Regions from separate parts of the Homo sapiens genome. Here region 1 is linked to region 2. Evidence: fine-mapped expression QTL. A gene starts in region 2. The other region holds a variant in brackets. All regions are shown on one strand. Distances are from middle to middle. Region 1 overlaps WDR62 (WD repeat domain 62). Region 2 holds the start of POLR2I (RNA polymerase II subunit I).

Region 1 (4,373 bases), 28 kb before region 2:
ACATGGGGCTGGGGTGTGGGGCTTCAGCGGGCGGTGTGTGTCTCCCAGGATCCACGAGCTGCACTTCATGGACGAGCTGGTCAAGGTGGAGGCCCATGATGCTGAGGTGCTGTGCCTGGAGTACTCCAAGCCAGAGACGGGTGAGCCCGCAGCAGGGGTGGAATGGGGGTCAGGCAGGGAGGCAGCCCCCCTGGCAGGGCCACAGAAAGGGGTAGTTGGTGTCTGGTGGGACTGTGGATGACAGCTGGGAGTTTTGTGTTCGGTAAGGGCCCCTGTAGCTGGACCCTGAGACCAGAGTGGCTGGGACTTCAGAAAGCAAGACACCCGCAGGCAGGACTCAGCTTGACTTGCCCGCTGCTGGTGCCAGCACCCAAGCCAAAGGGGTGGATGTATGAATGAGTGAATTGTGAATGAGAAGATAGATTGATTGTTAGGCATTATTTTCAAAAAGTTTGAAGCCTATAGAAATATTGGGAGAATATTATAATGAACACCCCATAGGCTTCACCCAAATTCCTCAATTTTTTTTTTGAGATGGAGTCTTGCTGTCACCCAGGCTAGAGGGGAGTGGCACCATCTCTGCTGACTGCAGCCTCCACCTCTCTGGTTCAAGTGATTCTCGTGCCTCAGTCTCCCATGTAGCTGGGATTACAGGTGCCTGCTGCCATGCCTGGCCAATTTTTGTATTTTTAGTAGAGATGGGGTTTCACCATGTTGGCCAGGTTGGTCTCAAACTCCTGACCTCAGGTGATCCGCCCGCCTTGGCCTCCCAAAGCGCTGGGATTAGGGCATGAGCCACCACACCTGACCTTTTTTTTTTTTTTTTTTTTTTTGAGACAAGAGTCTCACTCTGTCGCCCTGGCCGGAGGGCAATGACGCGATCTCAGTTCACTGCAACTTCCGCCTCCCAGGTTGAAGCGATTCCCCTGCGTTCAAGCGATTCTCCTGCCTCAGCCTCTCGAGAGTAGCTGGGATTACAGGCACGCCCCCACCACACCCGGCTAATTTTTGTATTTTTAGTACAGACGGGGTTTCACCATGTTAGCCTAGGCTGAAGGCTAGGACCATAGTAGGGTCTCCAGACCTCATGGTCCTCTTCATTAAAACAACAGAAAATTCCTTCTGGGCCATCAGATGAGATCATGAGATAGGAGAAGATTTCCAAGTGAAGATTTCGTTTGTTTCAAGACAGAGTCTTGCTCTGTCACCCAGATGATATATGGATGATATATGGTAGCATTTTGTGTCCTTTTTCTTGTTTATTTTTAGCATAGAAGGTATTGCACGATGCTGGTCTCAAACTCCTGACGTCAGGTGATCCACCCGCCTTGGCCTCCCAAAATGCTGGGATTACAAGCGTGAACCACCATGCCCGGCTCCTCAAGATGTTTTCTAGGCTGGGCACGGTGGCTCATGCCTGTAATCCCAGCACTTTGGGAGTTACAGAGTTGGTGGAGTTATATCCTGATGTGATTTTCCCCATGTTCTTCTTTCGTTCTCTCATCCCCCATGCTGTGTGCCCCACCAACTTGTCTTGAAACATATCTTCACTCGGTTCGCCTCTCCTGATCTCCCCTCTGCCTCAGGTCATGTTATTAGGCCTCAGACATAGCAAGTGACCAGAGTAGGGAAGGCTGGTGGCAGATGGGAGTCTGGCCACAGGCAGTCAATAGGACCTGAACAAGGCCCAGGTAGCCAGACCTCAGAGGGTGAGAGGACACTGGTTTTGGAAGAGGCTGAGAGGTTGCCAGGGCTTTACCCAGCACAGACCCAGCAGGCAAGAGCGCTGGGCTCTGCTGGGGCGTCTGCTGTGGATGTCCCTGGAGGAGCGTCCATGCGCCCATCGAGACTCATCCTCCCTGAGCTGGTGGTGAGGAGGTGAAATGCCAGGGTGTGGGGGCTCTGGGAAAGACCACACAGAGCTAAGGGAGTGGCCCTTGCCAGGCTTGGGCCAAGTTGGCTACAGTTGAAGAACCAAAGACCCCTTCTCCGAGGACTGGGCAGCTTGGTCACACTGCCCTTCTGGGAGGCCAGGGCACCCACGCAGCCTTCAGGAACCAGTCTCATTCTCTCCTCTCACAGGGCTGACCTTGCTGGCCTCAGCCAGTCGGGACCGGCTGATCCATGTGCTGAACGTGGAGAAGAACTACAACCTGGAGCAGACGCTGGATGACCACTCCTCCTCCATCACCGCCATCAAGTTCGCTGGTGAGCCCCTTTCTTCCCGCTCCCTGC[G/A]CCTTGCTAGCTACCCTGCTAAAAAAGGATTCATTCTTTCAACTCTCCTGTAAAATATATATCCAAACAAGTGAATACAGTATCTGTGTACAGTATACAGAATAATGACTGGGGCCGGGTGTAATGGCTCACACCTGTAATCCCAACACTTTGGGAGGCCAAGGAGGGTGGATCACCTGAGGTCAGGAGTTCGGGACCTTCCTAGACAACATGGTGAAACCCCGTCTCTACTAAAAATACAAAAATTTGCTGGGCGGGGTGTTGTTTCTGTAATCCCAGCTACTCAGGAGGCCGAGGTGGGAGAATTGCTTGAACCTGGGAGGTGGAGGCTGCACTCCAGCCTAGGCAACAGAGTGAGACCCTGTCTCAAAAAAAAAAGAATAATGGCCAGGTACCATGGCTCACACCTGTAATCTCAGCACTTTGGGAGGCCAAGGCAGGTAGATCATGAGGTCAGGAGTTCGAGACCAGTCTGGCCAACATAGTGAAACCCCATCTCTACTAAAAATACAAAAAAATTAGCCAGGCATGGTGGTGTGCACCTGTAATCCCAGCTACTCGGGAGGCTGAGGCAGGAGAATTGTGTGAACCCGGGAGGCGGAGGTTGCAGTGAGCCAAGATTGCGCCAGTGACTCCACTCCAGCTTGGGTGACAATGCGAGACTTTGTCTCAAAAAAAAAAAAAAGAAGAATATAGGCCGGGCGTGGTGGCTCATGCTTGTCATCCCAGCACTTTGGGAGGCTGAGGCAGGCAGATCACCTGAAGCTAGGAGTTTAAGACCAGCCTGGCCAACATAGTGAAACCCCGTCTCTACTAAAAATTCAAAAAAAGTAACCGGGCATGGTGGTGCACACCTGTAATCCCAGCTACTTGGGAGGCTGAGGCAGGAGAATAGCTTGAATCCAGGAGGCCAAGGTTGCAGTGAGCCAAAATTGTTTCACTGCACTCCAGTCTGGGTAACAAGAGCAAAACTCCATCTCAAAAAAAATAAAAATAAAAAATAAGCTGGGCGTGGTGGCCGAAGTGAGTATCCACAGTTCTTAGGAGCAAGGTTTGAACTAGGACGTTGTTGATAGCAGAGACTGTTCTAATTGCTCATGGTCGTAATATTGTTAAATACGGTACTTGGATTCACCACGTGCAGGTTAAGAAGCAGAACATTACCAGAGGCTTGCAGGCCTTCTCTGGGTCCCTCCCAGGTTACCCTTCCTCCCTTATATGGGGCTCACTCCCTTCTGTGAGCCAATGACTCCTCCTTGAGCAACATCTAATACTTGTATGTCAGGCCTGGACCCTCTCAAATGTCCTGTCATGAAGGAGCATGTGTGATGTGCCCAGACTCAGAGTTTTATATTTGTTCTGTCATTTCATCCTCACCAAACTGTTATTCTGTAAAGAAATGAGACGGCCGGGGGCATCTCACGCCATTGCACTCCAGCCTGGGCAACAAGAGCGAAACTCTGTCTCAAAAAAAAAGAAATGAGAATAATAAAAGCAAGAATGTTTCTAATGCTTACCATGTGGCAGTCCCTGTTCCAAGGGCTTCACATCACTCTCCAGAGAAGGAACTGTCACCATGCCCATTGTACGGACCGGAAGTTGAGGCTCAAAGGGGAGGCCCAGGTTCAGAGCAGTGTTTAACAGCTTTGACCTTGGCACCAGAGAATGCCTGGGTTCAGTCCTGCCCCTGTCCTCTCTGTGTGCCTTGGGACAAGGACTCTGTGAACCTCTGTGTTCATGCTTGTCCAGTGGGATGGGTGGTGAGCATTCAGGAAGACCCGCTACATGCATGGGGCCTGGCCCAAGGCTCATGTGGATCTTGCAGTTGATCCTGATGGCACGAGCCTCCCAGCCTGTCTCCACTGGTCGCTGCTGCAGTCCTGCCTCTACTCCGCTACTCAAGTCACCTATCTCAATCCCAGACTGGAGAGGGTGTCCCTTCTTTGTCCCCAGCCTTTGTTTCTCTATATGCCCTTGCTCTGCAGAGCCTGCCTTGGCCACAGCTCCACCTGTGCCCCCTCACACGTACAGCTCATACCTTACAGAGTCCCACCCAGACCCAGCACCCACCTCACCACCTTTAGGAAGCCTTGATCCCAGCACAGTTGATTGATGGCTCTTGCAGTGGAGTTCCCCAG
Region 2 (4,381 bases):
AACCCCATCTCTACAAAAAATAAAAAAATTAACTGGGCATGTGGCGCATGCCTACAATCGTGTAATCGTGGGGAGGCTGAGGCACTAGAATCGCTTGAACCCGGGAGGCGGAGGTTGCAGTGACCTGACATCATACCACTTCACTCCTGCCTGGGCGACAGAGCAAGACTCTGTCTTTAAAAAAAAAAAATGTGTATGTCACATCAGAAGATGGGACTTGGCATAGAGAAAGTAAGGACCATGGGATAGTGAGGGAAGGCCCTGGAGAGTGACAGGCACACACACTAATCACTGTCTCCCACCTGCCTTCCTAATCCTCCGTGGTGGCTCAGGACACTCTGTAAATACTCATTTGCAGAGTAACAAAGGGTGGATGGGGTCCAGCCAGAGAGGCTAATAACTCCTGCATCCCTCCAGCAGCCCACACAGGGCAACCTGACCTCTGCTCCCAGGGGCCCTGGGACGCTGGGCTGCCCGCTCTGCCCTAAGGCCTTCCCTCTGCAGCGCATGCTGACAAGGCACCTCAAGTGCCACAGCCCCGTGCGCCGCCACCTGTGCCGCTGTTGTGGCAAGGGCTTTCATGACGCCTTCGATCTCAAGCGCCACATGAGGACTCACACTGGTGAGCAGTGGCAGGGACAGGGAAAAGTTGCTGGGCCCCAGGTGGGGATGGAAGGAAATGGAGAGAGGTGCTGGGCTGTGGAGTGTCCATGGTTTGTGTATGTGGGGTATGGAGAATCAAGACATGATGTCTCTCGGACCCCAGTGGGTGGGTGTAAGGTGGCACCAAAATAGGGGCCTGTCACGGAATGCAGAGTGCAGACGGATGCCGGTTATACGATTCAGGCTCCAGATCGAAAGGCAAGGGAAGGCCTCCCTCTCCATCCCCCAGGGGAGGGAGCATCCTGGTGAGGGAGAGTGGAGACACAGGTGTCTGGCCCATGTCTGCACTGGGTGACGGTAGCAGATGGTGGGTCATGGGCGGAAGAGTCTGAAGAGCTTGGAATAGGTACCAGAAATGCTCAACACTGGAAAGCAGGGTGGGGGCGCTTTAGTCCAGAGCCCATTGCCCTCTCTGTCCAGCCCTCCCCTCTGCGCCCATCTGTGCAGGGATCCGGCCCTTCCGCTGCAGTGCTTGCGGGAAAGCGTTTACGCAGCGCTGCTCCCTGGAAGCTCACCTTGCTAAGGTGCATGGACAGCCGGCCAGCTACGCTTACCGTGAGCGCCGCGAGAAGCTGCACGTGTGCGAGGACTGCGGCTTCACCAGCTCCCGGCCCGACACCTACGCACAGCACCGCGCCCTGCACCGCGCAGCCTGATACGGTGTGCCAGCGTCCTCCCCACGAGGCAAATAAACACAGAAAACTCACGCATGGAATCTGGTGTTTATTACACTCGGGGGAGAGAGGAGGTCACTCGGTCCAGCGGTGGCCGCAGTGTGGGGCTGTGCACACGTAGTAAAGGCGCATGGCGTCCTGGCAGAAATGATGCATGGTTAGGAAGGATTTGGACCCAGCAGCGCCTTACCCCAAAAGAACAGGCAAGAGAACTTCACCAATAGGTAAGGGCCCGGCAGAGTTCCAAGAAGCGCAGGGTCACCCACATTGATATCCCCGCCCCCAGAAAGGACCAAACAAGCCCCAGATACTTAGAAAGCCCTCGCGCCACTTACCTCGGCCCGCGCACTGTGTGACTGGAAGAACACAGCCTCCTTGTGGCCGCACCTGAGAGGGTAGGGGCTCGGTCACCGGAGGCTTCACACCCTTCCCTCCTCCCTTCGCCCAGTGAGGAGACGAGCCTCACTTTACCTCCCCAGTACCAGCTGAACGCTCACTTTTGGCACGGGTGGTCCTCGGTCCGCGGCAACGTGGGGTCCTGGGACACGTCGGCGATAATCTGGGTCAGTTCGCTGCAGGGACGCGGGGGTGCAAAATTACGCTCAGACCCAGCCTCCAGAGCCAACACCCCCGCCCCCAGCTCAGGGCCCGCCACTCACTCCACTTCGTGCGTGATCTTGTTGACATAGATGCAGCTGTTGTCGGCCTCCTGCTGGTAATCACAGTTCCGGCACTACGAGAGGGCGAGTGTGGGGGAAAGGGGGTCACGGAAGGATTCCAGACAAGATTGGGAGGAGAGGGCAGGGTGATCCCGGAGGATATGACGACAGGACTCTCTTTGGGGATGGGCAGGACATGAGAGTCAGGATCACTTGAGGTGCAGCGGAGGGCGAACAGGGAGTCCGATCACAGAGGCAGGGGGCAGGGCGGGGCCACGCTGGGAACAGGTGGACCTGCCGGGGAAGACCCCGGCGCTCACCGCGTAGAGCAGAATGCGGTTCTCCTTGTCTTCCTTGGGGTACAGCATGTTGTTACTGTGGGGAGGGGGAGGTGCCAGGGGTTAGTTCTGGAGCCATTCCTCGCCCGCCTTCTAACATCACCCGCTCCCTCCGCCTCACCATTCCTGGCAGAAGCGAATACCCACGAAGCCCGGCTCGTAAGTCCCGTCGGGCTCCATGGCGACGCGCAGCCCGCGCAGCCCTCCCAGCCTTCCGCGCTTGCTCCGCCGCGCTACAGGTCGCGGGAGGGGCCAGGCCTAGGTGCTTCGCCAAAAGAGGGCGGAGCTGCGCACACGTGCTGGCTCCCCGCCGCCTCGGGCTCGGCTCTCTCCGCGCAGAGGTTTCATGGCTTGCTTCAATCTTTTGATATCTTAGAGTAATTGCTTCCAATTTTTGGGCATCGCCGCCTCAGTTTACAGAATAGTATGGATCTGGTGCCAGAGCCGGGAAAACGATGCGCATCGTAAACCGCAAAACACTGAGCATCCAGGACAGAAGCCAAGGCGCTTGGCTTGGTTGAAGGCCAGTGCGCATGCGCGAGTTTACCCTTCGCGGACTGGGCGAGCTCTTGCCACTCCTACCTCCGGGCTTCAGTCTTCGCCGCCTGTTCTGGTCCTTTCCCGGGCCGCTATTGGAAGAACCGTGAACTATGGAAGGCCCCTCTGGATTGGCTGGGCTGGCCCAAGAGTAAGGAGAGCCCTCTTCCTGGCGGTGGGGAAGGGACGGCGGCGATTGGCGGACGCTCCTGGCAGGAGAGCGCGGATTGGTCAGGCACGGAGCAGGAGGCGGGGCTGATAGCCCAGCAGCAGCAGCGGCGGCGGCGGCTGCGGAGCGGGTGTGAGGCGGCTGGACCGCGCTGCAGGCATCCGCAGGGCGCGGCAAGATGGAGGTGACGGGGGTGTCGGCACCCACGGTGACCGTTTTCATCAGCAGCTCCCTCAACACCTTCCGCTCCGAGAAGCGATACAGCCGCAGCCTCACCATCGCTGAGTTCAAGGTGTGGCCATGGGGGCGGGGTCCGGAGGGGCGGGGCGAAGAAATTGGGGGGTTCCCGGAAGGGGGAGGCTGGGAGGGGCCGGGGAGTGACTGGGCGGGCCCGGAGGTGATCCCAGGCTGCGGAGGCTGGGGACCCGGTCGCGGCGGGGCGGGTCCGGAGAGAACTCGAGAGTGCAGAGATGAGGGCCGGGTCCAGCGAAAAATCCGACGGTCCAGAGGGCGGGGGCAAGAGGCGAGGGGCTGGATTGCGGCCCCGTGCGTCCTGACTGGGGGGTCTTTTGGAGGAAAAGGGACGTGGCGATGGTCATTGATGCAAGGGGCGGGGCCTCCGTGGCCTCCTTCTTCTCACCCTGCCTCCTCCTCACAGTGTAAACTGGAGTTGCTGGTGGGCAGCCCTGCTTCCTGCATGGAACTGGAGCTGTATGGAGTTGACGACAAGTTCTACAGCAAGCTGGATCAAGAGGATGCGCTCCTGGGCTCCTACCCTGTAGATGACGGCTGCCGCATCCACGTGAGGACTCTCTATCTGGGACACTCCCCCACCCCACCTTTCATTTGGTTATTCAACAGACACTTGCTGGGCTTTGCCCTCAGTCATACCCGAGATAGGTCCTGCCTTCGTGGAGCCTCCAGTGCAGCCTGACGAGAGACAGACCCATCATTAGACAGGGACAGCCTAGAGTGGTCTGGGCTGGGATCAGGAAATCCCAGGGGACTGGAGCCACCAAGAAGAGGTGCCTGACTCCACCTGGGAGAATCAGAGAGGGCTTCCTGGAGGAAGGGATGTCTGAGCTGAGGGATGAGGAAAGGGTGACTTAAGAGAAAGAGGTGGAAAGGAGGGAGCAGGGTGTACAGAGGCCTAGAATGTGAGGTAGGTCACAGTGAGCGACCAGGCTGGACAGCTTGGGAGAAACCAGAACACAGGATCTCTTTGTGCATCCACTCAGTACATCCTTTCTGTCTTTTTTTGAGACAGAGTCTCACTCTGTCACCCAACCTGGAATGGAGTGCAGTGGCACTATCGGGCTCACTGCAGCCTTCACCTCCTGG

The links. PIP is the estimated chance that this variant, and not a neighbour inherited with it, causes the effect. A credible set is the group of variants that fine-mapping cannot tell apart.
Region 1: its variant is the best candidate, but not a certain one, in a credible set for the expression of POLR2I in whole blood (TOPMed, PIP 0.66).

What each region holds. Positions count from the first base shown.
Region 1 is chr19:36,084,605-36,088,977 of GRCh38, forward strand. It overlaps WDR62 (WD repeat domain 62), which reads left to right. Exons shown (of 32, transcript NM_001083961.2): 12 at 49-140; 13 at 2,083-2,208. Among named protein-coding and RNA genes, the nearest start is that of OVOL3, 24 kb to the right of the region's middle. The variant G/A (reference allele first, on the strand shown) is at 2,236.
Region 2 is chr19:36,112,343-36,116,723 of GRCh38, forward strand. POLR2I (RNA polymerase II subunit I) reads right to left here and starts at 2,533. Exons shown (of 6, transcript NM_006233.5): 1 at 2,456-2,533; 2 at 2,317-2,371; 3 at 1,997-2,070; 4 at 1,835-1,909; 5 at 1,673-1,724; 6 at 1,367-1,475. The coding sequence starts at 2,514. The coding sequence ends at 1,413. OVOL3 (ovo like zinc finger 3) reads left to right here. Exons shown (of 4, transcript NM_001302757.2): 3 at 418-622; 4 at 1,111-1,369. The coding sequence ends at 1,319. TBCB (tubulin folding cofactor B) reads left to right here and starts at 3,126. Exons shown (of 6, transcript NM_001281.3): 1 at 3,126-3,332; 2 at 3,699-3,842. The coding sequence starts at 3,219. RefSeq lists enhancers at 1,517-2,028, 2,047-2,176, 3,767-3,856 and a silencer at 3,367-3,456.